Linked DNA regions of Homo sapiens. The protein of the gene in region 1 purifies or fractionates together with the protein of each later gene. This does not show direct contact. Each region holds a gene or a part of one and is shown in the gene's direction. Other genes may lie near its edges. The genes, in order: BLNK, MYBPC3, WDR81, MAP2K4, SCIMP, PPP2R2C and PLCG2.

Region 1 (4,220 bases):
GACACTGCTTTCAATTATTTGGGGGTATATACCCAGAAGTGGGATTGCTGGATGATATGGGTATTCTATTTTTAATTTTTTGAGAACCTCCCATACTTTTTTCCATAGCAGTTGCACCATTTTACAGTTCCACCAACAGCACACGAGGGTTTAACTTCTTCACATCCCCACCAGCACTTGTTATATTCTGAATTGTGTTGTTGTTTTATAGTAGCCGTCCAAATGGGTGTAAGGTGATAGACAGCTCATTGTGGTTTTAATTTGCATTTCTCTGGCCGGGCGCGGTGGCTCACGCCTGTAATCCCAGCACTTTGGGAGGCCGAGACGGGCGGATCACGAGGTCAGGAGATCGAGACCATCCTGGCTAACACGGTGAAACCCCGTCTCTACTAAAAATACAAAAATTAGCCGGGCATGGTGGCGCGTGCCTGTAGTCCCAGCTACACAGGAGGCTGAGGCAGGAGAATGGCGTGAACCCGGGAGGCGGAGCTTGCAGTGAGTCGAGATCGCGCCACTGCACTCCAGCCTGGGCGACAGAGCGAGACTCCGTCTCAAAAAAAAAAAAAAAAAAAATTTGCATTTCTCTGATGATTAGTGATGTTGAACATTTTTCATATGCTTTTTTGGCTACTTGTAAGTCATTTTCAGAGAAATGTCTATTCCATTTTATAATCAGGTTATTTGATTTTTGTTGTTGCTGAGTTTTAGGAGTTCTTTATGTTTCTGGATATTAACCCCTTATCAGATAAATGATTTGCAAATATTTTTCCCACTCCATAGGTTACCTTTCCACTCTGTTGATTGTGTTATTTGCTGAGCAAAAGCTTTTAAGCTTGATATTGTCTTCTCTATTTTTGCTTTTTTTGCCTATGCTTTTAATGTCATATCCAAAAAATCATTGCCAAATCCAGTGTCATGGTGTTTCCCCCCTACATTTTCTTCTAGAATTTTTATATTGGGGAATTTTATTTTGCTTTTAACAAAGTCTCAGATAATTTTAAAATGCAAAACTCTTGAATCTAAGGGCACTAATCAAGACCAATCTTTGGTTTTAAAATGTAGACCGCATTATCATTTAACATCCTAAAGCTTCTCCAGCAGTCTAGCTTTTCTATAAGAGGCTTAAGGGTGGGTGAAGAAGCTGTCCTATTTCGAGGTCCTGAAATTCTCTCACAAATTTTGAACTCCCTGAGGGGCTCTGGATTTCGTTGTCCTGCTAGGAAACTCTGGTAAACAGGAATTCCTCTTGGCCTGATGAATCTTCATCTCCACTTTAGAATGAATAGACTAGAGCTTCACCTCACTTCCAACATATTCAGCCTATGGATTCCAAAATAAGTAATATATTACTATAATAGCATCTGGAGGTACTGACAGTCAATTAAAACTCTTACTTAAAGTATCTATAATAAAAAGATTATGTCCCCTATACACTGAACATCTGAATGGAAAATTAAAGTGTTGGTTACATGATGTCAATCATGTGGAGTTTTTCTGAAAGTCTGTGTGTATTTGTGTGTACATGGCTAGAAAAAGTAACCAATTCATTAACTATTTAACTGTTTATGCAGCTATTTTGGCACTGTGTGATACAACATTGAGTAATTTTACAGTTTTGACAACTGTCTGCTTTATCTTAGTGGCCAATACGTTGTTTTTCTGTCCACAAATACACTGAATGTATCTGTCTCAAATACACTGAATTAATAAAAACAGAAAAAAAGGAGAGTGAGGGGAAGCTGTAACTATGTTATGCCCAATTCTTTTTTAAATTAAATCACAAATATTCTTCAACTTCATTCCCTACTTCAAATGTTTCAACTCAGCTCAACTCCCTACTGCACACACTTCAATCCCCGAACACCACAACAAGGCAATACTCACAAATATTCAGGGACTAGAGGGACGGAATGAGATATTTGTTTGTATAAGTACAGCAATCCTCTCCTATGCTTCCTAGGTTCAGGACACACTTTTTCCCTTGTAATCCACTTCAAAGAGATTGTGCTATTTCGTTTTCTGGCCCTTGAGTCCATAACTTTAACTTTCAACTGCATTTGGTTTAGCAACATATTATGCCAAACAAGCAGAATGAATGTTTAATGGGATTTATAATGAAAGAATTTCTTTGGCAATTGCAAGATGGCTGAATGATTGAATAGGAAGTAAAGAATAAAGACTAAAGGTATTTGAAAGTCCCTGTCTCTTACCTCTCTCCCTGACTGAATATTCAGCTAGCCAATTATCTAAAAGACAACTGGTATTTCATTTGGAAATGTTGGCCAATATTCTGAATATTTTACTTTATTCAATATGTAGCTACTTGGAAGTCATCCAAACAATTAATAAACACTTAAAAATTTTACTGTGGATGTTTGTCTTTATCTAAAAAATCGAGAAAATAAAATCAATTGATAGTAACTGCTAAACTCATGGCACTGTTGTAAAACAATCACCACTTTTAAAAAGTGATTCTAAATACATTTAATGAGTGTGAACTTGTAGCACTTTTGTATACTCAATGAATTTAATTTCATGATCTGTGTTACATTTGTTTTTATCTTTCCTTCAAAACTTTAATTATTTTTCAGAACAAAATTTGTGATAATTTTAAATTAAAACCCATAGACAACAAGGATCAAAATTTGGAAAAATAAGTATGTATGGAGAGAGCCTAGCATGAAATTTCATTATTAATTAGGCACTAAGTTAACTCTAAGCTTACCAGGAACCAAGTAAAAATGGAAATATGAAGGTTTATAAAGCTTTCTTTATTTGTTTAAAAAAGAAAACAAAACATAATTTTGTTTAGGAGATGACTATTTCCTTGTACTAAATTTCTAAGGTTAATTTATTACATCAATTCTTGTATCTGAGACTTGTGCAAAGTAAGAGATGATCTATGTTTTGTAAAGAATGTAGAAAAATGCGTTGTATGATAGTTTTACATTTAACGGTAAATAAAAAGCAATATACTATAATATTTTATCATAACTCAGTGAAGTAATCTCTCTAAGTAGCTATGCTAATTGAGGCTGTCAGTGTGTTTTTCTTCGTACTTAATACAGCAAAGTCCAAGGTCTGCCACCTTGAAGGTTACAGCCTTTGTTAAACTAGATTTTTTTGTGCAGAATGTCAGCTGGGGTGTAATAACTTTTACTAACTTGAGAATGAGAGAAGATGGGAGGAGTGGAGCTCAAATTTAACACAAATGCCAAAGTATAATTCATCTATGTTTTCTTCCTCTAGTACTTTGGAAGTGTTGCTGAAATCATCAGGAATCATCAACATAGTCCTTTGGTTCTTATTGACAGTCAGAATAACACAAAAGATTCCACCAGACTGAAGTATGCAGTTAAAGTTTCATAAAGGGGGAAAAAAAAGATCAATACCATTGCTTCAGACACTTTCCCAAAGTTTCTCCTTTTGAGAAAAAGTCCCAAAACTTCATATTTTGGATTATGAATCATCCAGTAATAAAATGGAAGATGGAGTCAGCTATTGAAGTGGTCATCCATTTCTTTTTAAGAAGCTCATGTGGACTTGTTCTATTGCCTGACCTGATGAACTGTTAATATCTGGTGAGGTTGAGTTATCATGCTACTAATATTTTCCAAATAAATATTTTTATTTTTAAAAATAAGTGTAAAGTATATTATCAAAATAAGAAAATAATGCTCTTGCATAAAACAAAGTGGCTGGAAATTTAAACCTCCACAATGATCATTGGTACACTAATGTAGCTGGGCTCTCCACTGCCAATGCTTGACAATTAAGTCTTGGTTAAAATTTTAATTTGTAGAAAATAAGGTATTAAAGGTAATGTATGATATCTGTAAGTATAGGCAAGAAGGATGTAATGGTTCCTTTTTGTGAGCACTCTCAACCATGGGATATATATATATATGGATATGAACTTTCTATAAGTTCTTGTCTAGGATTATGCTGTTAGTTTTGCTTACTAAAGATAATTATACCCTCTTTGATCTACATGTCTATCAAATAGAACCTAAACTTGATATGAGGTTTGTATTAGTCCATTATCACGCTGCTAATAAAGACATACTCAAGACTGGGTGATTTACATAAAAAAAAAAAAAAAAAAAGAGGTTTAATGGACTCACAGTTCCACATGGTTGGGGAGGCCTCACAATCATGGCAGAAGGCAAAGAAGAAGCAAAGGCATGTTTTACATGGTGGCAGGCAAGAGAGCATGTGCA
Region 2 (4,694 bases), on another chromosome or scaffold:
GCCTTGATGAGGTTTGAACTCATGATGATGATGATGATGATGATGATGACCATGACCAGCAACAACATTTGATATTCTGGTCAATTAGTATCTGCCAACCTTGAGATGTGGAGTCTAATATCACTCCATTTTATAGAATGGGAAACTGAGGCTTGTAGAGGTCAAATTATTTCCCCAAGGTCACAGCCGTTGAGTGGCCAAGTTGGATCACACTCCAGGTCTGTCCCGACACGTCAACATGGAGTGGGAGGCCTTGCTTATCTGGAAGAGGATACTCTTCAGCATTCCGAGGACAGGAATTAAGCCCCAAAGCTCCTGTGGGCCGCAAAGGGTTCTCACGAGCTGCACGCCCAGCAGGACTTTAGACCCAAGTGAATCCCTGGTGGGACCCCCAGGTTCTATTTGCTTTCTAGCTCCTAGCCACAGCAGGGGAGAAACAGACCAAGCTGAGCGGAGAAGCCTGTAAGTCCTGTGTTTTCCTCCAGACGGTAGCAAGTAGTGGCAGTAGACAGCCTGGGAGTGAGGGACTTCCCAACGCTGTCAAAGACCTTAGGGAACCCAGATTCTGGGGCCATTATCGTAGGGACAAATACCCGCCCCACACCTCCTCAACCCCAGAGGGCTCACTGCAGCCCAACCCTGCAGCTCCCTAGTCCTACTGCAGGGCCACAAGAGAAGGCAAAATGGTGTTGTGTCTTCATTCTTCTATTTTTATTTTTTTTTTTTTGAGACAGGGTCTTACTTTGTTGCCCAGGCTGGAGTGCAGTGGCACGAACATGGCTCACTGCAGCCCTGACCCCCCGGGCTCAAGTGATTCTCCTGCCTCAGCCTCCCGAGCATCTGGGACTACAGGTGTGCGTCACATGCCTGACTGATTTTTGTATTTTTTGTACAGATGGGGTTTCATCATGTTGCCCAGGCTGGTCTCGAACTCCTGAGCTCAAGTGATCTGCCCGCCTCAGCCTCCCAAAGTGCTGGGATTACAGGTGTGAGCCACTTCGCCCAGCCCATTTTTATTTTTTTATTATTATTCTTTGAGATATTAATAATAAAAAATAATAATAAATAATATTTTTATTATTATTATCACTCTGTCACCCAGGCTGCAGTGCAGTGGTGCGATTTTGGCTCACTGCAGCCCGGAACTCCTTGGACTCAAGCGATCCTCCCACCTCAGCCTCCTGGGTAGCTGATACTACAGGTCCACACCACCACACCTGGCTAATTTGTGTGTGTGTGTGTATTTATTTTATTTTTTATTTTTTTAGTAGAGATGGGGTTTTGCCATGTTGCCCAGGCTGGTCTCAAACTCCTGGCCTCAAATAATCTGCCTGCCTCGGCCTCCCAAAGTGCTGGGATTACAGATGAGCCACCACACCCGGCCTAACATTTTTAAAATTATAAACCCACTTCATACGTGTGACAATCCTGTGCAGTGGGTGCTGCTTTCACCCACCCCGCTTTACAGATGAGGAAACCAGGTGCTTTGAGATTAAAGAGATGGCAGTGCTAGGACTCAGAGACACCCTGGCCCCAGGGTCTGTGGACATGACCACTGCCTGAACTGCCTGCGAGGATGCTCCTGACCCGTTAGCCTTAGGGTTATGGGCCCAGCATGCTCCCACCGTACAATTTGCTGTAAGAGGGACACACACGGGGCTTGGAGTACCCCTGAGGCTTGCCAAAGGTTGGGGAGGCAGAATTGTGCTGCGGGGGGTGAGGGGGGAAGGGACAGGAGCCAGCCAGGGACAATGTGGCCCTACCTTCTCCCTGGAGAGACCTCAGCTCTCTGGAATTCATCTATATTTAGCAGGTGGCTGGACAGGAGGCAGATAAGCAGAGCCTGGGGAGGGGGGAGGTCCCCATATATAGTGGGAAGGACAGGACCCCACTCAGTCCCTCTTTGGGTGACCTGTGCCTGCTTCGTGCCTGGTGTGACGTCTCTCAGGATGCCTGAGCCGGGGAAGAAGCCAGGTAGCTTTAGGACTGGGGTTGGGTCTAAGTGTGGGAGCAGGGGGGTGTCTACAATTGGGGAGCAGGGCTAGGAGGGAGTTCTTGAGGGGGTTGACGAGGACGTGGCCTCTGAGCCCCAGGACAGGGGCAGCCAGTCCTCCAGGGTCCTTTTTTGATTCTCGGTTTCTTTTTCCCATCCCTCTGATGAGAGGTGAAGGTAAACCCAAGGTCAGGGACGCAGAGAGGGGACACAGCCAAGACAGGAAGCACCCGGGGTCAACCCATTCTGAGAATGCAAAGGGACCCCTTCCCTGTCCCATTGCCTTCACCTTCCACAGCAAGGTTCCCCGCGGACAGAGCCCACGTTTAGTATGGAGCTGAGCCAGGCTCACGGCATGCCTTCAGACCAGTCTCTACCCACTATGGGTCTCAGTCTCCCAACCTGGGGTGCCGGGGGTGGTGGTGGCATTGGGTTGGTTCCTCCTGGCTGTGACATTATCTGCTTCATGAGCCTGTACGGTGTGGCCCCCATGTTGAGGGTGACACAGCCCCTCTTCTCTGAGAGAGGACAGTCAGGAGCCCCTGAACCCAGGCCAAGGGCAGGGAAAATCACAGCCCAGGGACCTGGGCCTGGGCTGTGCCCTTATGAAGGTTGTCCAGGGCAGAGATCCAGGTCCCCATCCCCCAGCGCCCTCCCAGGCCAGCTTTATCTCAGTTGCTGATACCCAGCCTGAGGTCCTTGGAGGACAAATTTGGCCACATTCCAAGTAGGCAGACTTCCCCGCCCCCTGCCAAGGGCCCGAAATGGTTGGGGGAAAGGGAGCTGGGTTCATCACGGGTGTCTCCAAGCAGGGAAAGTGGACACATGCAGAAAAAGTCTTGTTGGGAGGTCAGGACCACAGCCCTGGCTCTCCCGACTGCTAGCTGTGTGATCTTGGAGGAGCCGCTTAGCTTCTCTGAGCCTCAGTGTCCTCCTCTGAGAAATGAACAGAATAACTGCAACTACCTCAGAGAACTGGTAGAGTATTACGTGAGGGGATGCATAGAAAGTGCTAGCACAGTATTTACTGAGAGGGGCTGCAGGGGCGGGGTGCACGCTCCAACCAGGGGCCGCTGTAGCCTCCACCTGGCCCTTCAGTCTCAGCTTTTAGCAAGAAGCCACGGTCAGTGGAAGTGGCCGCAGGCAGCCCTGCCGTGTTCGAGGCCGAGACAGAGCGGGCAGGAGTGAAGGTGCGCTGGCAGCGCGGAGGCAGTGACATCAGCGCCAGCAACAAGTACGGCCTGGCCACAGAGGGCACACGGCATACGCTGACAGTGCGGGAAGTGGGCCCTGCCGACCAGGGATCTTACGCAGTCATTGCTGGCTCCTCCAAGGTCAAGTTCGACCTCAAGGTCATAGAGGCAGGTAAGATCCTGATCAGCCTTCCCTGAGGTTTGGGCTGCTGGGGGAGGGGCAGCCCAGCGACTCTCCATCCATCCAGGGAACAGGAGGTGCTTTCACACTTTCTTGCCTTTGCTGTGGCTGTGCCCCCCGCCAGGAACGCCCTTTCCCCCTTTTCTGCACATGACCTCTCTGAGTACCCCCATGTGCCATCCTGGCTTGTTCCAGCCATGGGGTAGGTGGGAGAGATGAACAAGACACAACCCCACTCTCCCCCTGCAGACCTCCCTGGGGAGATGACCCTGCACAGACGGCCGGGAAGCCCCAGGAGCTGTGGATGAGGGGAGTGCAGCCCAGTCTGAGGGGCTGCTCTAAGGCTGGGGCAGAGCAGGGATGGACCTGGAGCTGTTCAGGGCAGATGCAGAGGACATGGGAACTGATGGCCTGGGACGGGGAGGAGAATGTGAGAGGCAGGCTGGCTCTCCAGCTCAGCATGAGCTGCCTCTGAGGGGCCCAGGCAGCGGGAGGACAGCCATGGCAGACTTTCCTCATCCACAGCGGGCTCATGGGTCCAATGCTCAGGAGAGAGAGGGTGGAGGGGTCTCTGGTTAGTGGCTGCACCACGACTCCCATCTGATCCCCTCCAGAGAAGGCAGAGCCCATGCTGGCCCCTGCCCCTGCCCCTGCTGAGGCCACTGGAGCCCCTGGAGAAGCCCCGGCCCCAGCCGCTGAGCTGGGAGAAAGTGCCCCAAGTCCCAAAGGTGAGAGGGGCTGGGCAGGGAGGGGCAGGATCCGTGGGTAGGGCGTGTCCAGGGCAGGTCTCAAAAGCCTTTGCTGGGCCAGGTGCGGTGGCTCAGGCCTATAATCCCCAGTACTTTGGGAGGCCGAGGTGGGCGGATCATGAGGTCAGGAGATTGAGACCATCCTGGCTAACATGATGAAACCCCATCTCTACTAAAAATACAAAAAAATTAGCCGGGCGTGGTGGCGGGCACCTGCGGTCCCAGCTAACTTGGGAGGCTGAGGCAGGAGAATGGTGTGAACCTGGGAGGCGGAGCTTGCAGTGAGCCGAGATTGTGCCTCTGCACTCCAGCCTGGGTGACAGAGCAAGACTCCATCTCAAACAAACAGAAAAAGCCTTTGCTCACAGGGTCAAGCTCAGCAGCTCTCAATGGTCCTACCCCTGGAGCCCCCGATGACCCCATTGGCCTCTTCGTGATGCGGCCACAGGATGGCGAGGTGACCGTGGGTGAGTGTGAGCTGCTGTGCCCAGCATTGGGGTGGGAAGGGGGGGCAGCAGGACACTCCCCAAGCCGGGCCTGTCGCCCCTGCCTTTGCAGGTGGCAGCATCACCTTCTCA
Region 3 (4,220 bases), on another chromosome or scaffold:
TACCTGGTCAGTCGCTGGTTTGGCAGGCCCGGGGCTGGGAAGGCTGAGGACCTGAGGGCCGGCCCGGGCTCTCTTGGTGCCAGGGGGTCTGTGGGGCTGCCCGGCCCTCATCTGCTCGGTGGCTCTAGGTGGCCCCAGGGAGTGCCTCAGGCCCCAGCCGACTGAACAGCCGTAAGGAGGCGGGGCTGCTGGCCGCGGTGACGCTGACTCAGAAGATCATCGTGTACCTCTCAGACACCACACTCATGGACATCCTGCCCCGGATCAGCCATGAGGTCCTGCTGCCCGTGCTCAGCTTCCTCACCTCCCTCGTCACGGGGTAGGCCTCTGCCCCAGCTGATGTAGGGGGACCGGCCCAGCGGAGGGGCTGCCCAGGAGGGGGTGGGAAGCTCAGGGGAGAGGACGTAACACTGGACTGGGTGTCAAGAGTCCTGGTTTTGATCCCGGCTGTGTGACCCTGAGCAAACCACACCCTTTTCCTGTGCCTCAGTTTCCTCATCTGGTTTGGACCAGTTGGTCTTGGAGCTCTTTCATTTAAAGCTTTTGATATGTCCGGGCACGGTGGCTCATGCCTGTAATCCCAGCACTTTGAGAGGCTGAGGCGGGAAGATTGCTTGAGCCCAGGAGTTCAAGACCAGCCTGGGCAACAAAATGAGACCCCCTCTCTAAAAATATATATAAAGGCCGAGCGTGGTGTCTCACCCCTGTAATCCCAGCACTTTGGGGGGCCAAGGCGGGTGGATCACGAGGTCAGGAGTTTGAGACCCACCTGGCCAACATGGTGAAACCCCGTCTCCACTAAAAATACAAAATCTTCGCTGGGCATGGCAGCAGGTGCCTGCAATCCCAGGTTCTCGGGAGGCTGCAATCCCAGGTTCTCAGGAGGCTGAGGCGGGAGAATTGCTTGAACCCAGGAAGCGGAGGTTGCAGTGAGCTGAGATCACGCCATTGTACTGCAGCCTAGGCGACAGAGCAAGACTCTGTCTCAAAAAAAAAAAAAAGTATATATATATGCTGGGTGCTGTGGCTCATGCCTGTAATCCCAGCACTTTGGGAGGCCAAGGTGGGTGGATCGCTTGAGGTCAGGAGTTCGAGACCAGCCTGGCCAATATGGCAAAACCCTGTCTCTACTAAAAATACAAAAAAAATTAGCCGGGTATGGTGGCTCATGCCTGTAGTCCCAGCTACTCGGGAGACTGAGGCAGGAGAATCGCTTGAACCCGGGAGGCAGAGGTTGCAGTGAGCCGAGATCGCACCACTGCACTCCAGCCTGGATGACAGAGCAAGACTCCATCTCAATAAAAATAAAAATAAATAAAGATTTTGCTAGATTCTGGTCAAGTCCTGCAGAACGGCGGGCTGGAGCTCATGAGCTCTGTTTCCAGGTTCCCAAGTGGGGCCCAGGCTCGGACCATCCTGTGTGTGAAAACCATCAGCCTCATCGCCCTCATCTGCCTGCGCATTGGACAGGAGATGGTCCAGCAGCACCTGAGCGAGCCCGTGGCCACCTTTTTCCAGGTCTTCTCTCAGCTGCATGAGCTTCGGCAACAGGTGGGCAGATCTGCTGGGCCAGGGCGGGCTGGGGCGGGGGCTGTGGACCTGGGTGACCCCCTGGGCATCTTGCTCATAGGATCTGAAGCTGGACTCCGCGGGCCGTGGCGAGGACCAGGGTGGGCCAGGGTGGGAGCTGTGGACCCGGCTGACCCCCTGGGTGTCTTGCTCATAGGATCTGAAGCTGGACCCTGCGGGCCGTGGTGAGGGCCAGCTGCCACAGGTGGTCTTCTCTGATGGGCAGCAGCGGCCCGTGGACCCCGCCCTGCTGGACGAGCTGCAGAAGGTGTTCACCCTGGAGATGGCATACACAATCTACGTGCCCTTCTCCTGCCTGTTGGGTACTGCCCCATCACGTTCCCCATCACAGTCTTCGTGGCTGTCTCCTCCCTTGGGAGGCCCCATTCTCTGCCCTTGCCCCAGAGTCAGCAGTGGGTTCTAAGAGCCAGCAGGATGGGTGAGAGCAAAGGGATTTGGCCTCAGACCCCTACCCCCAAGGTGACACACAAACAAGGACTGAGCAGTAGCCAGCAAGAGAGGCCCAGAAGCTGGCCTGTAGTGTCCCTGGGGAAGGCAGGAGAGTCAGGGAGGTGGACTGGCGGTCCGCAGGAGCTGGCGAGAGGGAAGGAGTGGCCTCCTGTTTACGAAGCTTCCCCTCTGGGCCCTGCACGGTGCTGTGCTGATCGTTTCAGCGTGTCATCTCCCTGGAGAGGACAGACAGCCTTGTGGTTACACCTGTTATCATCCTGCCACTGAAATCTAAGCTTGGGAGGCCAGGGCACCACCTGTCTTGTTCCATATTCTATTCCTAGTGCCCAGCACGGCACGGCACATATAGAAGATGCTCATGTGTACATCACAACGGAATGAATCCACATTTCACTGAGGAGGAAACTGAGGCTCAGAGACAGAGTTACTTGCCCAGAGTTGCAGAGCCAGTTCCTGCCCCATCTTCTGTGGCTCCCGAGTCCTTGGATGGGTGATAGCAGCCGCCTGCCATCTTCCCTGTCTCAGGACCTCTCCCACTCCTATCCAGGTGACATCATCCGGAAAATCATCCCCAACCACGAGCTGGTTGGGGAGCTGGCGGCGCTGTACTTGGAGAGCATCAGCCCCAGCAGTCGCAACCCTGCCAGCGTGGAGCCCACCATGCCCGGCACCGGGCCCGAGTGGGACCCCCATGGTGGGGGCTGCCCTCAGGATGACGGCCACTCAGGGACCTTTGGGAGCGTCCTGGTGGGGAACCGCATTCAGATCCCCAATGACTCTCGGCCTGAGAACCCCGGACCACTGGGCCCCATCTCGGGGGTGGGTGGCGGGGGCCTGGGCAGCGGGAGCGACGACAACGCCCTGAAGCAGGAGCTGCCGCGGAGCGTGCACGGGCTGAGCGGAAACTGGCTGGCGTACTGGCAGTACGAGATCGGCGTGAGCCAGCAGGATGCCCACTTTCACTTCCACCAGATCCGCCTGCAGAGCTTCCCGGGCCACTCGGGGGCCGTCAAGTGCGTGGCACCCCTAAGCAGCGAGGACTTCTTCCTGAGCGGCAGCAAGGATCGTACCGTGCGCCTCTGGCCGCTGTACAACTACGGCGACGGGACCAGCGAGACGGCCCCACGCCTCGTCTACACCCAGCACCGCAAGAGCGTCTTCTTCGTGGGCCAGCTTGAGGCCCCGCAGCACGTGGTGAGCTGTGACGGGGCTGTGCACGTCTGGGACCCCTTCACAGGTGAGCGGGCCCAGGTGAGGCCTGTTCTCTTCCTGCTCCTGCGCCCCACCAGGCCTCCAGGAAGGGGGCCCGAGGGTGGGGCTGTAATGCTGCGGAGTTTGGGGAGACCCAGCGAGGCCGCCTAGGAGAACAGTTAGGGCTTCGAATCTGTTAGACTTGAGTCTGAATTGGCTCCACCGGCTTACTTGCTGAGTGACCTTGAGCAAGTTCCTGCTGCTGGAAGCGTCTCCTTTCCCATCTATAAACTGAGAATCAGAAAAACTGGCGTAGAAGATAACACACAGCCGGGCGCAGTGGCTCACGCCTGTAATCCCAGCACTTTGGGAGGCTGAGGCGGGTGGATCACGAGGTCAGGAGATCGAGATCATCCTGGCTAACATGGTGAAACCCCGTCTCTACTAAAAATACAAAAATTAGCCGGGCGTGGTGGCGGGTGCCTGTACTCCCAACTACACAGGAGGCTGAGGCAGGAGAATCTCTCAAACTCAGGTGGCAGAGGTTGCCGTGAGCCGAGATCGCACCACTGCACTCCAGCCCGGGCAACAGAGCGAGACTCTGTCTCAAAAAAAAAAAAAAGAAGAAGATAACACATGTAGGGTTTTGGCTTCATGTGTAGCAGATATTTGGTCAATGGTTGCTTATTTTTTGGCGTCACCATAGGGAGAAATATGGTTAAAAGGGGGAAAGGGATGGTGTCGGGGAAGACAGAGGGAGGTGGCATTGGGTCAGCAGCACTGTGCAGAGAGAGGAGGTTGCTTTGGGGATGGGAGCCTGGCCGGGCCATGGAAGCAGGAAGGTGGGAGAGTCAAGAAACATCTTTAGGCCGATGCAGTGGCTCACGCCTGTAATCTCAGCACTCTGGGAGGCCAGGAGTTGGAGACCAGACTGGCTGACATGGTGAAACCCCATCTCTACTAAGAATACAAAAAAAGGCCGGACGCGG
Region 4 (4,220 bases), on another chromosome or scaffold:
AGTATTGGGATTACAGTGGCGTGAGCCACTGTACCTGGCCTGGATAAGCATTTTAAAGTGCCATTTATTTATTTAGGACAGAGTCTGGCTCTGTCGCACAGGCTGGAGTGCAGTGGCATGATCTTGGCTCACTGCAGCCTCCACCTCCCAGGTTCAAGTGATTCTCCTGTCTCAGCCTCCTGAGTAGCTGGGACTACAGGCACGCACCACCACTCCCAGCTAATTTTTGTATTTTTAGTACAGACAGGGTTTTGCCACGTTGGCCAGGCTAGTCTCGAACTCCTGACCTCAGGTGATCCGCCTGCCTCAGCCTCCCAAAGTTCTGGCATTACAGGGGTGAACCATCGTGCCCCACCTAAAGTCCCTCTTAAAATGTAAAAGAGTTGGTGCAAAACTGAGGAATCCATGGAGCTCTGAAGTTGACTGAAATTCAGGGAGGGAGATTATGGGAGAGAAGGAAGAGTCAAAGTAAATTAAAGGATAACCCAAGCAAATGTAGATTTGCCATCTAAATTCATATTGAATATGGTAAAAATACTTAGAGAATTTAATTTTAAGAAAAATTACTTTTCAGAGTCCCTGGTTGGAAAGATATGCTCCTCTTGCCCCCAGTTGATGGGCAGAAGCAAAAGCAAATCATTCAGCCTAGGACTAAATGATTCCAAAAAATAAAGTCAAGTGGAATATGTAGTCCACAAAAAAATCTCAACACTCACAAAAGAAATGAGAATCAGAAACAATGGATAGTAGGAATAGATCTGCAAAGGCTTCAAATATTGGAATGAAAGGAAACAAAAAATAAGTTTAAAGAAAAAGAGGCAGCTTAGAAATATAAGCAGGGAACACATTTATAAAGAACCAAATAGAACTTCTAGAAATAAAAAGCATAAATTAAAACAATAGCTGCATTCAACAGATTAGATATCATTGAAGAGAGATTAATGAACTAGAAGACAGAGCTGAAGCTCTCCCAATAAAACTTTTTGAGATGCTGGAAATGTCCTATAATCTGCTCTGTCTAGTGTGGTAGCTGCTGGCATTTGAAATGTGGCTAATGTAACTAAGGAAATGCATTTTTTATTGGAATTAAGTTTGCTAACGGCTACCTTATTAGATAGTCTAAGGGGAGCTAATATAATTATTGATAACATTATTAGTGTCAGCTGTAATTCAGAAAAAGAAGACAGTCAATGTTAATAGTTTAAGATTTCAACCCAAATAGCATCATAAGTTTATACACTGACATAATTTTCTGCTCCAGTAGATGAAATAGAAAAACACAAAACCAGAAAGGTATGGCAGCTTTACAAAGAAAGCAAACCTCTGTGTGGGTGAAAAAATGCAACAAAAATACTGACAGAATGCTGTGTAGATCTGATGCCATGGACTTGCTGTATTCCAGGTCATTTTTCATTCTGGAGAATGAAAAAAATGATATCAGTTACTTCCTGGGCCACAGCTTTAAGCAAGCTATGGTACTACACAATGACAAGGCTTTAGATACTGGTTTTGCAACCAGAGGACTGGAACTGTAATTGTCCTAATACCAACATAGGAGTGGAACTTGAAAGGTCCATTACAGGACCCTGTTTGATACTGGTGGCCCTGTGAAATAGAGGCAACTGTAAAACTGCTCTATGTGTGTATCCCTGGCTCCCAGTTCAGTTCATAGTGATTAGTGGGGCACTCAGACATATGTTGAACAAATGAATGGATATGCATGGAGGGTAAACATGTTATTTCAAAATGAGTCTGCAAATCATAATTCTTGAATACTGAAGTGTAATGCTAAGAAAGCATTTAACAAAATGGAACAGAAACTTACTTTAAGTTGAAATAGATTTATGAAATTGTCTGAAATATGCTGTAAAAGAAAATCAGTATATTTAGGATGCTCAAGGAAATAAAGGTATAAATTCAATTAAAACTGAGGAAGAAATAAAGTGGTTGGAAATAGAAGTCTTGGAAATGGAAAAATCATAGCTGTTGATATAAAAGACACAACAGACTTGATGTTCTCTAGACTGGAAATAATTGAAGACAAAATTAGGGAAATAGGAGCTGAGACGTTCCCCCAGCATGGCACAGATTATATGAAAAGCAGTGAAGAATCAGAACAGATTGCAGAGTTAGAGGTTCTAAGATGCATGTAATGGAAATAAAGAAGGCAACTCTGAAAGTGGAGAAGCAATGTTTACAGAGATCATAGGGGAAAGAAAACATTTGAGAACTGATTTAGTATAGGTTTTCAGATTGAAAGTGAAGTCTCTTTATCATGTAGGATAAACAAAGGTATAAGCTTAAAGGTAAATTTAAATATAAATTTAAAAGTAAATTTTAATTGATATTCTGTAGTTTTGCTTCAGTGCATAAATGATAAACAAAGGTATAAATTTACCTTTTAAATTTATATTTAAATTTACCTTTAAATTTATACCTTTGTTTATCATCATTTATGTATTGAAGCAAAATTACCGAGCAATATCAGGAAGAGAAAACAGATTATCTGTTAAGGATTGATAATAAGACTAACAGCAGATTTGTTCCCAGCCACAATAGTTGCAGGAAAAAGTGGAGTCACAGCACCAGAGTGCTGAGGGAAAATAATTGTCAGCCTGGTCCTAAAGTTTTAGACTCAGACACTCAAATATTCACAGTAAGGAAGAAATACAGTTTTAGGAATGGGAAGACTGAGCACTTACAATTTATAGACTGCTTTGATCCTTGAATGGTGTGGAGGTTAGGGATGCTGACCCCCTGTACAGTCAAAAATCCGCATATAACTTTTGATTACCCCAAAACTTGACTACTAACAAATAGCCTACTGTCAACCAGAAGCCTTACTGATAACATAGTTAACATATATTTTGTATATGTATTATATACTGTATTATTACAATGAAGTAAGCTAGAGAAAAGAAAATGTTATTAAGAAAATCATAAGGAAGAGAAAATATATTATTTATGAAGTGGAAGTGGATCATCATAAAGATCTTCATCCTTGTCTTCACATTGAATAGACTGAGGAAGAGGAGGAGTTGGTCTTGCTATCTCGGGTGGCAGAGGCAGAAGAAAAATCCATGTATAAGTGGATTTGTACAGTTGAAATCTGTGTTGCTCAAGGGCCATCTGTACTTGACCAAGAAGAGAAGTTAACCCAGAAGAAGGATGTCACAGGTTGGATGCCTGGAAAGCAGGCTTTTGAGACAGAGATAAGAGTGTAGGAAGTTGACTAGGTAGTGATCTTGGGATCAACACTACCAATGAGAAGGAAACGAGATTGGGCAGAAGAAGTTCAGTTGCAGTGCCATGTCATTGAAGGCCTCAGCCAACTCTGTGTTGACCTGCCTTGGAATGAGGGTCTTGGATTTTTATTCACTTTTGTGGATCAGTCATTAGAGATGGACTGTCCCAGGAGGGCTAAGGTGGCTGTCTTTAGCTGTGGTAATCCTGAAGAGGCCGATAGTAAAGGGTTGTCTGCTGGCGGCTTGCCCCACAGTGGAAGAATAAGTCCTTCCTTCTTAAAGAGGGAATCTACATAGCACATTGCAGTATCTGTTACAGAAGGTGTGGGATATGGAAAACAGCAATGAGTTTAGAAAGAGGTGAACTATGTTACCCATATTAATTCATGTTTGATAGTAAAATATTAATTGAGGTTGGAAGGGAATGGTGATTAAGATATGGGCCAAGATAGATGAGGTAAATATAAACAAAATGAAAATACTTTTGGCAGCTTTAATTAGGCAAGGTAGAATTCAAGGAGAAAATGTCAACAGAGCAGACATTTTTATATACTGATGTAGTCTTCAGTGAAGTTATATTGTTTTAAACTTTTGGACCAAAGAACATATTGAGATACAGAGTATAAACTTTTTTAAAACTTAAGGATAAATTGATAAAAATGTATATGTAATTTATCTCCCAGAATTACTTGATTGCTGGTTTCTCTTGGGTAGTATCTGCATAAATATCTGTCTACTTATTTATTTACATTTAGAAAAGCATATATGTACACAAATAATTTTATACTTATAAAACATTTATATATTTAACTGTAGTATTCTGTGTAGCTATGCCATAATTTAGTCAATTTTCAAGAATTAATATTTTTTCTAATTTTTAACTAATCATCCTACACTGACTATCCTAGAGATAAATCTTCAGATTATAGACTCACAATTTTTTGTATGTGCTTTTACTGTGTTTAGCAGGCTGTC
Region 5 (4,663 bases), on another chromosome or scaffold:
GGCTGGTCTCAAACGCCTGACCTCATGATCCGCCTGCCTTGGCCTCCCAAAGTGCTGGGATTTCAGGCGTGAGCCACTGTGCCCGGCCTAGAAGAAAATTTTAAATTGGCTTTTAGGAAGGTTTTTTAGCAGCTAAACTTTGGATGAGCCTAAGAAGAAAGAGTTCAGGCCTTGGCCAGGTGCAGTGGCTCAACTCTGTAATCCCAGCACTTTGGGAGGCCGAGGCAGGTGGATCACTTGAGGTCAGGAGTTCGAGACCAGCCTGGCCAACATGGTGAAACCCTGTCTCTACTAAAAATACAAAGATTAGCCGGATGCGGTGGCACACACCTGTAGTCCCAGCTACTTGGGAGGCTGAGGCAGGAGAATTGCTTGAACCTGGGAGTCGGAGGTTGCAGTGTGCTGAGATTGAGCCACTGCACTCCAGCCTGGCGACAGAGTGAGACTGCATCTCAAAAAAAAAAAAAAAAAAGAAAGAAAGAAAGAAAAAGAAAAAAGAAATTAGTAAACACTGCAAATCAGGAATCTTCTGAGCCAGATGTTTTGTTTTGTTTGTTTGAGATAGAGTCTTGCTCTGTTGCCCAGGCTGGAGCGCAATGGTGTGATCTTGGCTCACTGCAACCTCCACCTCGCGGGTCCAAGCAATTCTCCCGCCTCAGCCTCCTGAGTAGCTGGGACTACCGGTTCACACCAAAATGCCCAGCTAATTTTTGTATTTTTAGTAGAGATGGGGTTTCACCATGTTGGCCAGGCTGGTCTCGAACTACTGACTTCAGGTGATCCACCCGCCTTGGCCTCCCAAAGTGCTGGGATTACAGGTGTGAGCCACCGCACCCAGCCAGAGCCCGGTGTTTGTTAAATTTACCAGACATATATCAGACATTATCAGATATTTATCAGACATATCTGGTTATCATTATTACTGAAATGGATAACAACTCATTCGCTCTGGGCAAATACAATGCACATCCGTTTGCCTATTTTTACTAATGTGACTGCTCATTTGAGTCAGAACCAGCCAATTCAACAAAATGGCTAATTGGTTTCCCCACTCCAACCCCCATGGTCAGAGGCCGTGGGCCTCGCTGGGAGTTCTGTCTCACAGTATTGCACGAGGGGACCCAACTCAGTCAAAATGCTCCACTGGCCACATTTCTCAAGGTCGCCACTCACACGCCTTTAGAAACAGGAAGCCTGTCCCTTGCCTCCTCCAAGCAGAAGATGTCTCAGCAGTTCCAAGGTGCACAGGAGCTTTCAAGAGTCACCTTCATGGTGAGATGGTGAGTTTGTCACACATGAGCTGGTTTCTTACCTGGATCTGTCTCTGCATGGGAGCTGGCGTCCTGTCGCTCTTCTTGAGACTGAGGTTGCCACATCCAGGAATGCTCACGGCAAACTCGTCTGTGGGGACACCAAACCCACCCCCACTGCCAAGTCTCCACCCTGGCCCCTGGCCCCTGCCAGGACCCCCTACCACACCATGAGGGTCCTCTGGTAGGCCTTGCGGGAGCGACACGGGGCAGTGAGAAGATTCTGGCTTCTGGACAGCCGTGGGTCATGAGCTTCCCTGGAAAAGGGATGGTTGCCTAGAGATGACGCCAGGGTCTCTGCCCCGTGGGCTGACTAGAAAGGGGAAGTGGTCAGGATGGGGCTCACTGTCTCTAGCAGTGGGTGAAGGCCTGTGAGTGAGGAATGCCTCTCACCAGCTGTGCCTGAGCTGCAGCACTCCAGCCACTGCTGTCTCCTTAGCTGCTCACATATGGATACTTTCACAGTTCAGGTAAGCATCTCAGCTTTCCAAGGGACAGTTTCCTGCTCTCTTCACAGCAGACATCTGCCAGCGCTGGCATCAGGGCGTGTCCCTGGGAGCCACCGATCAGCACTGGGCCAGGGGATTGCAGCCTGGGGCCCTGGTACGACTGCTGTGTAGGGTTGGAGAAAAACTTGCATTGAAGGATCTGCTCTACTGGTAACTGGCTGAGTGACCTGAGGCATCACTTCACCTCTCTGGGCCTTTTCCTCATGTGTATGTCAGGGGCGATGAAGAAGTCTACCTCTTGGATTGAAATGAGATAATGACCGGGAGTGAGAGGTCTCAACTGTAACGAGTTACTCTCACTTTCTGGATGCCGATGGTGTGTTTTGGGACTTGTTATGTGAGAAGACTGTCATGGTGCTATGCTGGAGGTGGGGGTGGGAGCGAGGCACTGACTGTGTCAATTTATTTATTTTTATTTTATTTTGAGATGGAGTTTCGCTCTTGTCGCCCAGGCTGGAGTGCAGTGACGTGATCTCGGCTCACTGCAACCACCGCCTCCCGGGTTCAAGCGATTCTCCTGCCTCAGCCTCCTGAGTAGCTGGGATTACAGGCACCCGCCACCACACCTGGCTAATTTCTGTATTTTTAGTAGAGACGGAGTTTCACCATGTTGGCCAGGCTGCTCTCGAACTCCTGACCTCAGGTGATCCGCCCGCCTCGGCCTCCCAAAGTGCTGGGATTACCGTAGCATGAATTTAGGCTACGTCTTGGGGCTCTTGGATGAAAGACCTGGATCACCTCCAGTCTTGGTACCTTTGTCATTGCATCTCTGGCTTTCAGTAGTTCATTAGGCACCTTCCCTTCCAGAGGCCTCGAGATCAAAGTGTGTTGGGCTGGCGTGAGTTCTCGGTGTAGCCATCTGCTTTTGCCCTCTGGAAAATTATTTTGAGAAGAGATCTGGGTTTGGCTTTGCCATATCCACTCCCACTGCCTGGTGTGTCCACTTGTCCCTGAGGTCTTGGCCATGAAGCAATGTGGAGCACAGGCTTCACTCTGCTTCAGTGGTAAATAACTACTGAGAGGCAGGCGGGGCATGGTGGCTCACGCCTCTAATCCCAGCACTTTGGGAGGCCAAGGTGGGCAGATCACAAGGTCAAGAGATCAAGACCAGCCTGGCCAACATGGTGAAACCCTGTCTCTACTACAAATACAAAAATTAGCTGGGCATGGTGGTGGGCGCCTATAGCCCCAGCTACTCGGGAAGCTGAGGCAGGAGAATCGTTTGAGCCCGGGAGGTGGAGGTTGCAGTGAGCCAAGATTATGTCACTGCACTCCAGCCTGGTGACAGAGCAAGACTCCATCTCAAAAACAAACAAACAAACTACTGAGAGGCTTAAAGCAAGGAAGGGACAGGGTCACACTGGTATTTGGCAGCCAGTGGGGAGCCCAGTGGGGGCTAGGGGCCAGCGAAAATGCAATGGTCCAGGTACAGAGATGAGGACTTGGACTACATTTGGAGGCTGATGGGCTGAAGCGGGGTGGGGATGGGGCCATGGGAGAAAGAGGAATGAGGCAAGGTTTCCGGTCTTTTCCAGAAGTGAAAGTATAGAGAAGGGAAGAAGAGAGGCTGGACTCCTTTTAATGACCCTGCCGTGCACTTCCCCATGCACACTTGGGTTTTAAGTTGCCAGTGACTATCCACATGGCCATTTCTGGTGCTGACATCAGTGAGAAGGACAAGTGGAGCGAGGCTCAGTGGCTCACGCCTGTAATCCCAGCACTTTGGGAGGCCGAGGCAGGTGGATCACTTGAGGTCAGGAGTTTGAGACCAGCCAGGCCAACATGGCAAAACCCCATCTCTACTAAAAATACACAAAAATTAGCCGGGTATGGTGGTGCGTGTCGGTAATCCCAGCTACTCAGGAGGCTGACACAGGAGAATAGCTTGAACCAGGAAGTAGAGGTTGCAGTGAGCTGAGATTGCACCAGTGGAGTCTAGCCTGGGTGACAGAGCAAGACGCCATCTCAAAAAAAAAAAAAGAAGAAGAACGAGTGGGAACAAGGCCTCACTTAGCATGAACAGCAACAGTCGGGGAATTAGAGGTGAACTGGGGCAAGAACTGCTCATGCCAACCGGCCTAAATGTTCTCTACAGCCTCTCAGACCCTCGAGATCTAGACTGAGATTAGTTCGAACCCTCATTCCAGGCCTGCCGAAGTCCAAAGCCCTCCCCAGGACTTCTGTGGACTCCCGAGGAGCCCACCTCTTTTTCCATGGTCAGCAATGGGCCTGCAGCCTCTGTGGGTAAAACTGTTTACACTGCGCTGTTTACACTGCACTGTTTGCACTGTTTATACTGTTTATACTGCACTGTTTATACTGCACTGTTTACACTGCACTGTTTATATTCCACCCCTTTCTTAGTCCCCCACACCCCTAGAACAAATCTGCTCACAAAAGAATTGGCAGATGCAGCAGACTTTACCAAAGACTCAGCGGGGGACCACCAGAGGGGCTTGTAACGCATCAGCGCAAACAACTGCACACAGAACATAACACGGCGCTGCTCTGAAAATGTCTTTGCCAGCCCATCCCTGAGCATTTTCTATCAGCTCCTCCTCTTGATACCAAATGAGGCCCATTCTGCTCATCGCACAGTAAGCCAATCACTGAGGTGACCAGTTTTTTTTTTTTGTTTTTGAGACGGAGTCTCGCTCTGTCGCCCAGGCTGGAGTGCAGTGGCGCAATCTCGGCTCACTGCAAGCTCCGCCTCCCGGGTTCACGCCATTCTCCTGCCTCAGCCTCCCGAGTAGCTGGGACTACAGGCGCCTGCCACCATGCCTGGCTAATTTTTTGTATTTTTTAAGTAGAGACAGGGTTTCATTGTGTTAGCCAGGATGGTCT
Region 6 (4,220 bases), on another chromosome or scaffold:
GGTGACGTCACTGCAGGTGAGCTCCGGTGAGGGGGAAGCAGGCACACGCCTCTTTATTACACCTGAGGATTTTAGGGCTGGAAAAGCCTTTGAGATTTGAGCCAGAGTCAGGTGCAGACCCTGGTTGGGCTGCTGGCTGCTGGGCGGCCACGGGCGTCTTCCTGCCCCTTGCCTCAGTTTCCTCACCAGCAGCATACAGATGACCACGTTTCTTCTAGGCTTCTTGTGAGCATGCAGGGGTGGTGTATGGCTGTAAAGTGCTTTTCACCTATAGCTGAGGGTGGAGAGCAAGGCAGATAATCCCTTGTTATAAGAAGGGGGAAACTGAGGCCCAGAGAGAGACAGCAACTCACCTAAAACTGCTCAGCTGAGTGAGTAGGCAGAGGCAGAAAGAGAATGGGTCAGCAGAGCTTTGTGGCTCCTGAGTCCTTTACTGAGGGCAGAAGGAAGCCTGGACCGTGTGAGGCCTTCAGCATCTACAAAGGCCTGAAACAGACATACCCTGAAACAGACACACACGTGCCCAGCATCCAGTGAGCCGCCATAAATATAAAGCAGTAGTCAGTGCTCTTCCTGAGAAGAAGAAATAAATGTTTAAATACATTGGCCTAAATGACTGGCAAATTGCACAAATAAATTCTGAGGAAGTGGGCAGCCGATTAGCTTCGATGTTGAGTAATGAGGGTGCTGGTGCCCCCTGCCCCACCCCCCGTCCCAAGAAAGTTTATGAGGGTTTCATCTAGAGGGAAGGATACAGCGATCACATCTTGATCACCCTGGTGTTTGGGGCAGAGCCAGTGGCCTTCATAAAAATCCTGTTTATGTCCCTCCCAGCGTTGGAGATTTTTCTCTGTAAGTCACACACATCCCAAGACACTTAACTGTCACTGAGAACCTGGGTGCCCTGGTCTGTCCTCATCCTGCCTCTCACCTTGTTTGCTTCCGATTTCACCCACGCCACGCCAACCCTGCACAGCATTCTACCCACCCTGCGCAGTTCACACTGGAGGCAGCTGTTTACTGAGGAGCTGCTCCACGCTAGGCCCCGGGCTAGCCCTTGGGGCCCTAGAGGTGAGCAAGGTTCAACTCAGTACCTGTCCCCAAAGTGTCCCCAGCCCCCAAGGAAACAGACATGGAATCGCCATCACACTGGCGCTCAGTGCGGTGACAGAGGAACACAGAGAGGCCGTGGGCACCCCAGGAGGCCTTTCTCTACTTTGTCAATTTGGTGAACTCCCATACATCCCATAAAACCCTACTGGCCTTCACCTCTGTAAAGCCTTTCTGCGCAGGCCAGATGACAATTGTGATCTTTCCTGTGTCCCCTCTTGCCTTTTGGATCCGACACTGTCTGTCCTTAGTGTCTGTATCTTCCTTGCCCCTCATCTTGACTAGACTGTGGCTTCTGCGGAGGCAGCATGTTTTACTCATGAAACCCCCAAACCTTCAGGGAAGGTTTCCTTTCTCTCTTCTTCTCTTTACTAAAAAACTGGTTTTGAGCTCTGGTTTGGTGGATGGCAGCAAATGGCTGGAGCACTGGATGAACTGGGTCCCAAGGCCGCCTGGAGAAAACAGAAAGCAATGTTGCCGGAAGGAAGCAGGAGGTGGACTGAGATGCCAAGACTTTGCTGGGCCAGTGATGCTCTGCCCTTCTCCAGAGCAGCTGGGCTCCCTCTCTCTCCTGAGAGTCCAGGGATCCCCAGGGTGGGCAGTGGCTGCACCCCGAAGGAAGGGAAGGTTAGCAGCATAGCTAAAATATCTGACACAGGAATACGTGCAGGGAGGATGCCTTGGAGGAGTCACACTAACACCAACTCCCAGGCACACAACCTAGAAGCAAAGACACAGAGGCAACAATGCAAGAACCACCCAGAGCCAGGCTGTCACTCACACCGGTGCTGCGTGCACACACACACACACACACACACACACATGCATGCACATACACGTATACTCAGTCATGCATGCACACTCACATGCACACTCATATGCACACACTCATACATGAACTCTCAGCCATGCACACTCCCACACACACAGGCTGGGTGCCCTGGTGTGTGGGAAAATTTAACGTGGGCTGCAGAGCTGCCTCTGCTCCAAAGGAGCTCAGTGCTTGTCACTCCGACTGCAGCACCGAGGCTGTCACCTCCCATCTCAGCTGTTCCCTGAGAGCTCAGGGACACAGCCCATTCATTCATTCTCTCACACATTCACTCATTCACTGGAGAGTCTCTCTGCTAGGCCTTGGACTGAGCGCTAGAGAGATGGAGAGATAAACAAGAGGTGACGCCTTGCTCCCGTAGCTGATCCCTAGTCCACTGGGAAAGCTGATGGGACCAGTTGACAGCCTCAGGGTTGGTCAGGGCTGTGCAAGGGACCTTCAGGGCTGTGAAAGCTCAGTGTCTGATGCCATGGCAAGGACTCCTCGCACCAACTGTCTGAGATGAAAGTTCGTATGAGTCAGGCTAACTCCACCGCTGTAACAAAACAACACCAGCAGTCCAGGGCCGAGCACGGAAATGCATTTCTCACTATGGGAAGGTTCGATGTGGATGTGCTGGTTGGGACACAGCTCTCCTGCAGGATCCTTCCATCCCCATCCCATGAGTCTCAGTCCCTAAGGCTTGGGTCCTCACCTTCCAGGTGGGGAAGGTGCTCCCGCTGCTTAGCTGCATCAGGGCCAGGTATCACTTTGCTCACATCCCATTGGTCAGAACTAGTCATGTGGCCATGTCTGGGCACAAAGGCTGCTGGGAAATGTAGTCCACATGTAGACAGCTGTTTCCCAGTGACAGCACTGCATTGCAGGAGGAGGTGAGGAGGCCTGGCAGACAATTGGCTGGCTCTGCCACAGTATCTTTTTGTTTCATTTTAGAGTTGAGGAAATTGGGGTATAGGAGGGTTCAGCCACTTATTCACAGACCCACAGCAGGTAAGCATCCATGCCTCTCTTGCAGGGCTGGTGGGCGGCGGGCATTTGCCATCTGTCACTGCCTATTTCAGACCACGGAGGATCAGGATGGACGCCCACCCCTGTGTTCCAGCCTCCGGTTGGGATCACATGCTCACGGCATGCTATGTCCTGATGCCACCACCTGGCCTTCACCTCTTCCCTGCCTCCTCATCCTCTGCAGGTGCCAGTGCTGAAGCCCATGGATCTGATGGTGGAGGTGAGCCCTCGGAGGATCTTTGCCAATGGCCACACCTACCACATCAACTCCATCTCCGTCAACAGTGACTGCGAGACCTACATGTCGGCGGATGACCTGCGCATCAACCTCTGGCACCTGGCCATCACCGACAGGAGCTTCAGTATCCTTCACTGTGGCCTGGCCAGTGCCTCCCACGGGCAGAGTAGCTTCCGTTGGGTGGTGGGTTTGGTTTGATTGGCAGACAGCTGGTTTGGGGATGGCTGCATTGTTTAACTTCTTCAGTGAGGCACCTCTGGCTCCTAGTATGCGTGTGAGGCCCAGATACAAAATCATGTCACGTCTGTTTCTGAAAACCGCAAAGTCGTGGTTGCTGAGCATTGCACCCATCGCCTCCTCCAGCATGGCCATGATCCCCTCATCCTAGGGCCTCACAAGGGGCCAGGAAGGAGACAGAGTTCAGGGTTCAGCTGCTCTGGACGAGGGACTGCTGGCCTTGCTCAGCGTCCACTGAAGGCGCCTCGGGGCCCTCCCCACTGGGACCCAAGGCAGGCTGTGTTAGCATAGGAGGACCAGCACTGGGGCCCCGGCCAGGGCTTCGGGTGACAACCAGGGTGTCAGAAGCCCAGCTGGGTTGGGGTCCTGAGGGCCCCCTGCTCGGTGTTCTCCTGTGTCAGGGCAAGCTAGGGGAAGCAGCAGCATTGACGATTCCCGCCGACTGCTGGGAAGAGAGCTGGTGATGACATGAGCACCAGCCTGCAGGCAGGGCGAGGCTTGGCCTGCCGGGGGGCTGGTGGGCGGGCAGGCAGGTTGCTGTGATGTCACTATTCTGCATACAACCAATGATAATAATAATTATAATAACACACAGTGAGACTCTGTGTGCCAGGCTCTGTGACTAACATCAACAAGCATTCATTTTAACTCATTTCACCTTCACAACAACCCTATGAGGTAGGTACTATTCTAAGTCTCCTTTACAGATGAGGAAACTGAGTCACAGAGCACTCAAGTTAACTTGCTCAAAGCTCACAGCCAGCAAGTGTCAAAGCTGGGCCTGAAACCCAGGCC
Region 7 (4,220 bases), on another chromosome or scaffold:
AGGTTTGGGCTGCTTGGGTGGATGAAGATGAATCAATTTTTTGAGACAAGGTGTTGCTCTGTTGCCCAGGCTGGAGTGCAGTGGAACAATCACGTCTCGCAGCAGCCTCGAGCTCCTGGGCTCAAGTGATCCTCCCACCTCAGCCTCCTATCTGGGACTGCAGGTGTGTGCCACTGTGCCCAGCTAATTAATTAATTAATTAATTAATTAATTTTGAGACCGGGTCTCGCTCTGTCTCCCAGGCTGGAGTGCAATGGCACGATCTCAGCTCACTGCAACCTCTGCCTCCCAGGTTCAAGAGATTCTTGTGCCTCAGCCTCCTGAGTAGCTGGTATTATAGGCGCACGCCACTGGGCCTGGCTAATTTTTGTATTTCCTTTTTTTTTTTTTTTTTTTTTTTTTGGGACAGAGTCACATTCTGTTGCCTAGGCTAGAGTGCAGTGGCATGATCTCGGCTCACTGCAACCTTTGCCTCCTGGGTTCAAGTGATTCTCCTGCCTCAGCCTCCTGAGTAGCTGGGACTACAGGCGCCTGCCACCATGCCTGGCTAATTTTTTGTATTTTTAGTAGAGACAGGGTTTCACCGTGTTAGCCAGGATGATCTCGATCTCCTGACCTCATGATCCACCCGCCTCAACCTCCCAAAGTGCTGGGATTACAGGCGTGAGCCACCACGCCTGGCCCAATTTTTGTATTTTTAGTAGAGACAGAGTTTCGCCATGTTGGTCAGGCTGGTCTTGAACTCCTGGCTTCTCGCGATCCACCTGCCTTGGCCTCCCAAAGTGCTGGGATTACAGGCGTGAGCCACTGTGCCCAGGCTATTTTATTTTTTATAGAGATGGGGGTCTCATTGTGTTGGCCAGGCTGGTCTCAAACTCCTGACCCCAAGTGATCCTCCTGCCTCAGCCTCCCAAAGTGCTGGGATTTCAGGTGTGAACCACTGTGCTCGGCCCAATGTATTATTTTGGGCTTGAAACAGACCCCTGGGGTCTTCCACTATTCTTTTCACAAATTCTCTTTGCTGAGGTGCCTTTGTCTGGGGAAGCCCACTGTGTGATTTCCATGGTCGTTTCCAGGGCCAGGTTCCAGGTGTCACTGGTGCCATTATCTTGTCCTCTGCGGGTGGCCCACTGACAGCCTGGAGACCGCTCACCTGGTCGTTTTCCCTGGCCCTGTGCCGCAGGTGGTACTATGACAGCCTGAGCCGCGGAGAGGCAGAGGACATGCTGATGAGGATTCCCCGGGACGGGGCCTTCCTGATCCGGAAGCGAGAGGGGAGCGACTCCTATGCCATCACCTTCAGGTGGGTGCGAGGGTGGGAGGCACATGCTCTACAGAGGGGCTTGGCAAGGACAGATGCGGAGAGACAAGGGGGAACTTCAGGTGGAGGCTCACCTGCAGTGCCCTGCCCCCCCAGCATCAGCGACAACAACAACCACCACAGCAAAAGCCGCTGCGAGAATGTGCGCTCCTGCGTGCCAGGCACAGTCTGCGTTCTCCAGGGCAGGATGTTCTGTAGTAACTCACTTTGGCTTCCAGTAACTCTGTGGGGTTGACATGACCATGATCCGTGTTTCTCAGAGGAGGAAACTGAGGCACAGCAAGATTAAGTAACTTGCTGAAGCATGCAGCCACTAAGTGGTGGGGCTGGGATTCGAGCCCAGACAGCCCAGGCAGCCCAGGCCTGTGATGATATAGATCTGGTTTCCTCCCAACTGCAGCTGCTGCCCAACCACCTCTAGGCCTGTGGTTCTCTAATGTTACCCCAAAACGCCAGATTCTCCCACTTCCACTAATGACAAGGAGCCGAGGAGTGACTCAGACTCCGTGTAGCCTACTGTCCCTCCATCTCCCCAGCCCCAGGGTTTCCCTGCATGTTCTTACGGTGGTAACAGTCTGCTATATGTTGAGTTCCTAACCGTGTTCTAGACACTGGACTGCCTTCAAGGCCTCATCTGATTGAATCCTTTGCTACAGCCTGTGAGAGGTAGGTCTAGTTATTGCAAGGGAGGAAACAGGACCAGAGAGGTTAAGTGACCTGCCTGGAGTCACACAGCCTCATAGTCAACTGAGTTTGAGGTTCAGATGCAGGCCTGTCCGTCTCCAAAGCCTAAGCTCTTCACTCCAGAGTCTCTAGCCAGAGGCCTGGGGGCCAAATCTCCAGCCAGAGGCCTGTGGGCGTCTTTTGTACACTGATGTGAAAAACTGAGAAATTTCACTGAAAAACTCAGATTGCTTCTTGTGAAAAATGGGAGGCAGTGGATGCTCTGGGCCTGTGTTTCCACATGGGCGCGGTGGTGCTGGCTGCATGGCAGCTACTGTGGGGTGTGTGGTTTGCCCCTGTCCACTCCTCTCCCCATTCCCTCTGCCCTGATCCCATCCCCTGGTGACCCTGCCAGGCTGCCCCCTGGGCGTTTGGATTTCCCTTCCTCCTTGCCTGCACCACTATGCCTGAGCCACCTCCCTGGGGACCGTGGTGACGGTCATTATCACTATAGTTTACTGAGGACCTACTGTGTACTGGCTCCAGCCAGAGAGCAGCCTCCCACCAGCATGGCTTTTCTGTACTCTCTGTTCCCAAGAGGGTGACCTGGGCTTCTCAGCATTGGTGCCTCTGCCCTTTGCTCTTTCCCCTAAGCCTCTTAGTGGTACCTCCTCAGCCTGGATGGGGAGGAGGTGTGTTCAGTCCGCTGCACACGGATTGAAAACCTGCTGTGTGCCAGGCCCCAGGTGGGGTGTTGGCACTCCCACTGTGCTGTCATCCTGTGCAAATGATGGCAACTAAACCCAACTGGCTGAAACTGAGGTGCCCAAGCGGTGAGACAGCTCTGACACAACCGGATCGGGGCCTCACCTGATGATGGTCAGGATGCCACCTGTATGTGCATGCTGGCGTTACTCTCCATCAGCTTCTGTCTCAGGTGGCTGTACCTTGGGCTGCCAGGACAGTGTCCGGCAGAAAGGATGGCCCCCTCCCTGAGCCAGGTGGCATGATTCTGACAGGCCATCTGGGGATGGGGTTGGGGTCACTTCAATGGGACCGCGTGAATGAAGAGGTTGGGTGGGTCCTCAGGTTGATTGCCTGACTTACATACACGCCCCATTCAGTTTGTGAGCTTGTCTTCCCCATGAGATTGGAGGTGTCTTGAGAATGGAAGTTTTTATTTTTTAGAAGTTAATAGATGTTTGGTGAGCACCTACTGTGTGCCGGGCCCTGTGCTGGGCTCCAGAGATGCAGGAGTGATAAAAACAGCCCAGTCCTTGCTCTCTCAGGCTAATGGTCTGGCAGGGATGAGAGACATCGCCTTACTCCAAGTGTTTCTTGCTTTTGACCTGTTCCTGCTTATGTAACATTGGCTGGGATGTAGTTGGTGGTTGGTGAATGCTGGCTCAGTGAATCAATCAGCAAGGATGGCCGCTCCCCACCTCACCCCATGGCCCACTGTCAGGGAAGCTCAGTCCACACAGTGTTTCTCAAAGAGTTGGGGTGTGAGGACTGATCCTGTTGTATTTGGATGTTGAACTTCCCTGGTCTCTACCCACTGCATGTCTGTCTGGGACCCTAAGTCATTGTAACAATCAAAAATAACATCCCTGCCCCAGGACACACACTTTTTCAAACCCTCTCTGGTCAGGGTATGGGGTGAAGCGTCACTGTCCTTCACTGAGAAGCACTGAGGAGGTTTGAGCACATAAGGAAATCAGTGTAGTATTTTGTGATGAGTGCTACAAAGGGATTGGTCAGGCAGGGTGGTGGAGGGTGAGTAGCTCTCCAGGGAAACGGATGGGGAATTTGGACCAGGCAGTAGGGGAACACAGGTCTGCAGCAACTTCTCCTTGCCCTCTACATATTTGTAAAGTGCCTCTCCTGTGCCAGGCACTGTTCTGGGCTCTGGGGATGTGTAATGAACTTCTGGATAGATTTCCCCAGTAGAGGAGAAACACCTGCTTTCAAATCCACAAAGGAAGTGTTGAGTTGTTGCCCGGCTGTGATTGGTGGAAGGCATCTCTTGGGCAGTGAAGCTGAGACCTCAGGCTGTGGCCGTGGCATCCACGCTCCAGGAGGATGGAAGATGCAACTCGTATTCCAGACCTGTTCCCATCTCCCCTTCTGATTCTCTTTTCTCCCAGGGAAGTTAGTTGTGGGTTGATTTCATTTATGTTTTCCAAACCATTCACTTACTGAGTCCTGCCTGAGTGCCAGACACTGTGCCGACAGC

The links.
Region 2: the proteins of BLNK (region 1) and MYBPC3 purify together in Homo sapiens (affinity purification with mass spectrometry, with the first as the bait; one study listed by BioGRID). This does not show direct contact.
Region 3: the proteins of BLNK (region 1) and WDR81 purify together in Homo sapiens (affinity purification with mass spectrometry, with the first as the bait; one study listed by BioGRID). This does not show direct contact.
Region 4: the proteins of BLNK (region 1) and MAP2K4 purify together in Homo sapiens (affinity purification with western blotting; one study listed by BioGRID and IntAct). This does not show direct contact.
Region 5: the proteins of BLNK (region 1) and SCIMP purify together in Homo sapiens (co-immunoprecipitation; one study listed by IntAct). This does not show direct contact.
Region 6: the proteins of BLNK (region 1) and PPP2R2C purify together in Homo sapiens (affinity purification with mass spectrometry, with the first as the bait; one study listed by BioGRID). This does not show direct contact.
Region 7: the proteins of BLNK (region 1) and PLCG2 purify together in Homo sapiens (affinity purification with western blotting; one study listed by BioGRID and IntAct). This does not show direct contact.

The regions. Positions count from the first base shown.
Region 1 is NC_000010.11:96,191,122-96,195,341, reverse strand, and holds part of BLNK (B-cell linker protein), read left to right. Parts: intron 1-3,249; coding exon 3,250-3,369; 3' UTR 3,370-4,220. UniProt on the Homo sapiens protein: Functions as a central linker protein, downstream of the B-cell receptor (BCR), bridging the SYK kinase to a multitude of signaling pathways and regulating biological outcomes of B-cell function and development.
Region 2 is NC_000011.10:47,349,903-47,354,596, reverse strand, and holds the start of MYBPC3 (myosin-binding protein C, cardiac-type), read left to right. Parts: upstream 1-1,894; 5' UTR 1,895-1,949; coding exon 1,950-1,974; intron 1,975-3,091; coding exon 3,092-3,358; intron 3,359-3,981; coding exon 3,982-4,095; intron 4,096-4,484; coding exon 4,485-4,583; intron 4,584-4,674; coding exon 4,675-4,694. UniProt on the Homo sapiens protein: Thick filament-associated protein located in the crossbridge region of vertebrate striated muscle a bands. In vitro it binds MHC, F-actin and native thin filaments, and modifies the activity of actin-activated myosin ATPase.
Region 3 is NC_000017.11:1,730,940-1,735,159, forward strand, and holds part of WDR81 (WD repeat-containing protein 81), read left to right. Parts: coding exon 1-6; intron 7-128; coding exon 129-319; intron 320-1,385; coding exon 1,386-1,551; intron 1,552-1,726; coding exon 1,727-1,892; intron 1,893-2,587; coding exon 2,588-3,277; coding exon of another isoform or gene 3,278-3,291; intron 3,292-4,220. UniProt on the Homo sapiens protein: Functions as a negative regulator of the PI3 kinase/PI3K activity associated with endosomal membranes via BECN1, a core subunit of the PI3K complex.
Region 4 is NC_000017.11:12,135,494-12,139,713, forward strand, and holds part of MAP2K4 (dual specificity mitogen-activated protein kinase kinase 4), read left to right. Parts: intron 1-4,220. UniProt on the Homo sapiens protein: Dual specificity protein kinase which acts as an essential component of the MAP kinase signal transduction pathway. Essential component of the stress-activated protein kinase/c-Jun N-terminal kinase (SAP/JNK) signaling pathway.
Region 5 is NC_000017.11:5,231,852-5,236,514, reverse strand, and holds the start of SCIMP (SLP adapter and CSK-interacting membrane protein), read left to right. Parts: upstream 1-1,654; 5' UTR 1,655-1,759; coding exon 1,760-1,780; exon of another isoform or gene 1,781-1,922; intron 1,923-2,572; exon of another isoform or gene 2,573-2,691; intron 2,692-4,663. UniProt on the Homo sapiens protein: Lipid tetraspanin-associated transmembrane adapter/mediator that acts as a scaffold for Src-family kinases and other signaling proteins in immune cells.
Region 6 is NC_000004.12:6,371,615-6,375,834, reverse strand, and holds part of PPP2R2C (protein phosphatase 2, regulatory subunit B, gamma), read left to right. Parts: coding exon 1-16; intron 17-3,134; coding exon 3,135-3,312; intron 3,313-4,220. UniProt on the Homo sapiens protein: The B regulatory subunit might modulate substrate selectivity and catalytic activity, and might also direct the localization of the catalytic enzyme to a particular subcellular compartment.
Region 7 is NC_000016.10:81,911,414-81,915,633, forward strand, and holds part of PLCG2 (1-phosphatidylinositol 4,5-bisphosphate phosphodiesterase gamma-2), read left to right. Parts: intron 1-1,183; coding exon 1,184-1,303; intron 1,304-4,220. UniProt on the Homo sapiens protein: The production of the second messenger molecules diacylglycerol (DAG) and inositol 1,4,5-trisphosphate (IP3) is mediated by activated phosphatidylinositol-specific phospholipase C enzymes. It is a crucial enzyme in transmembrane signaling.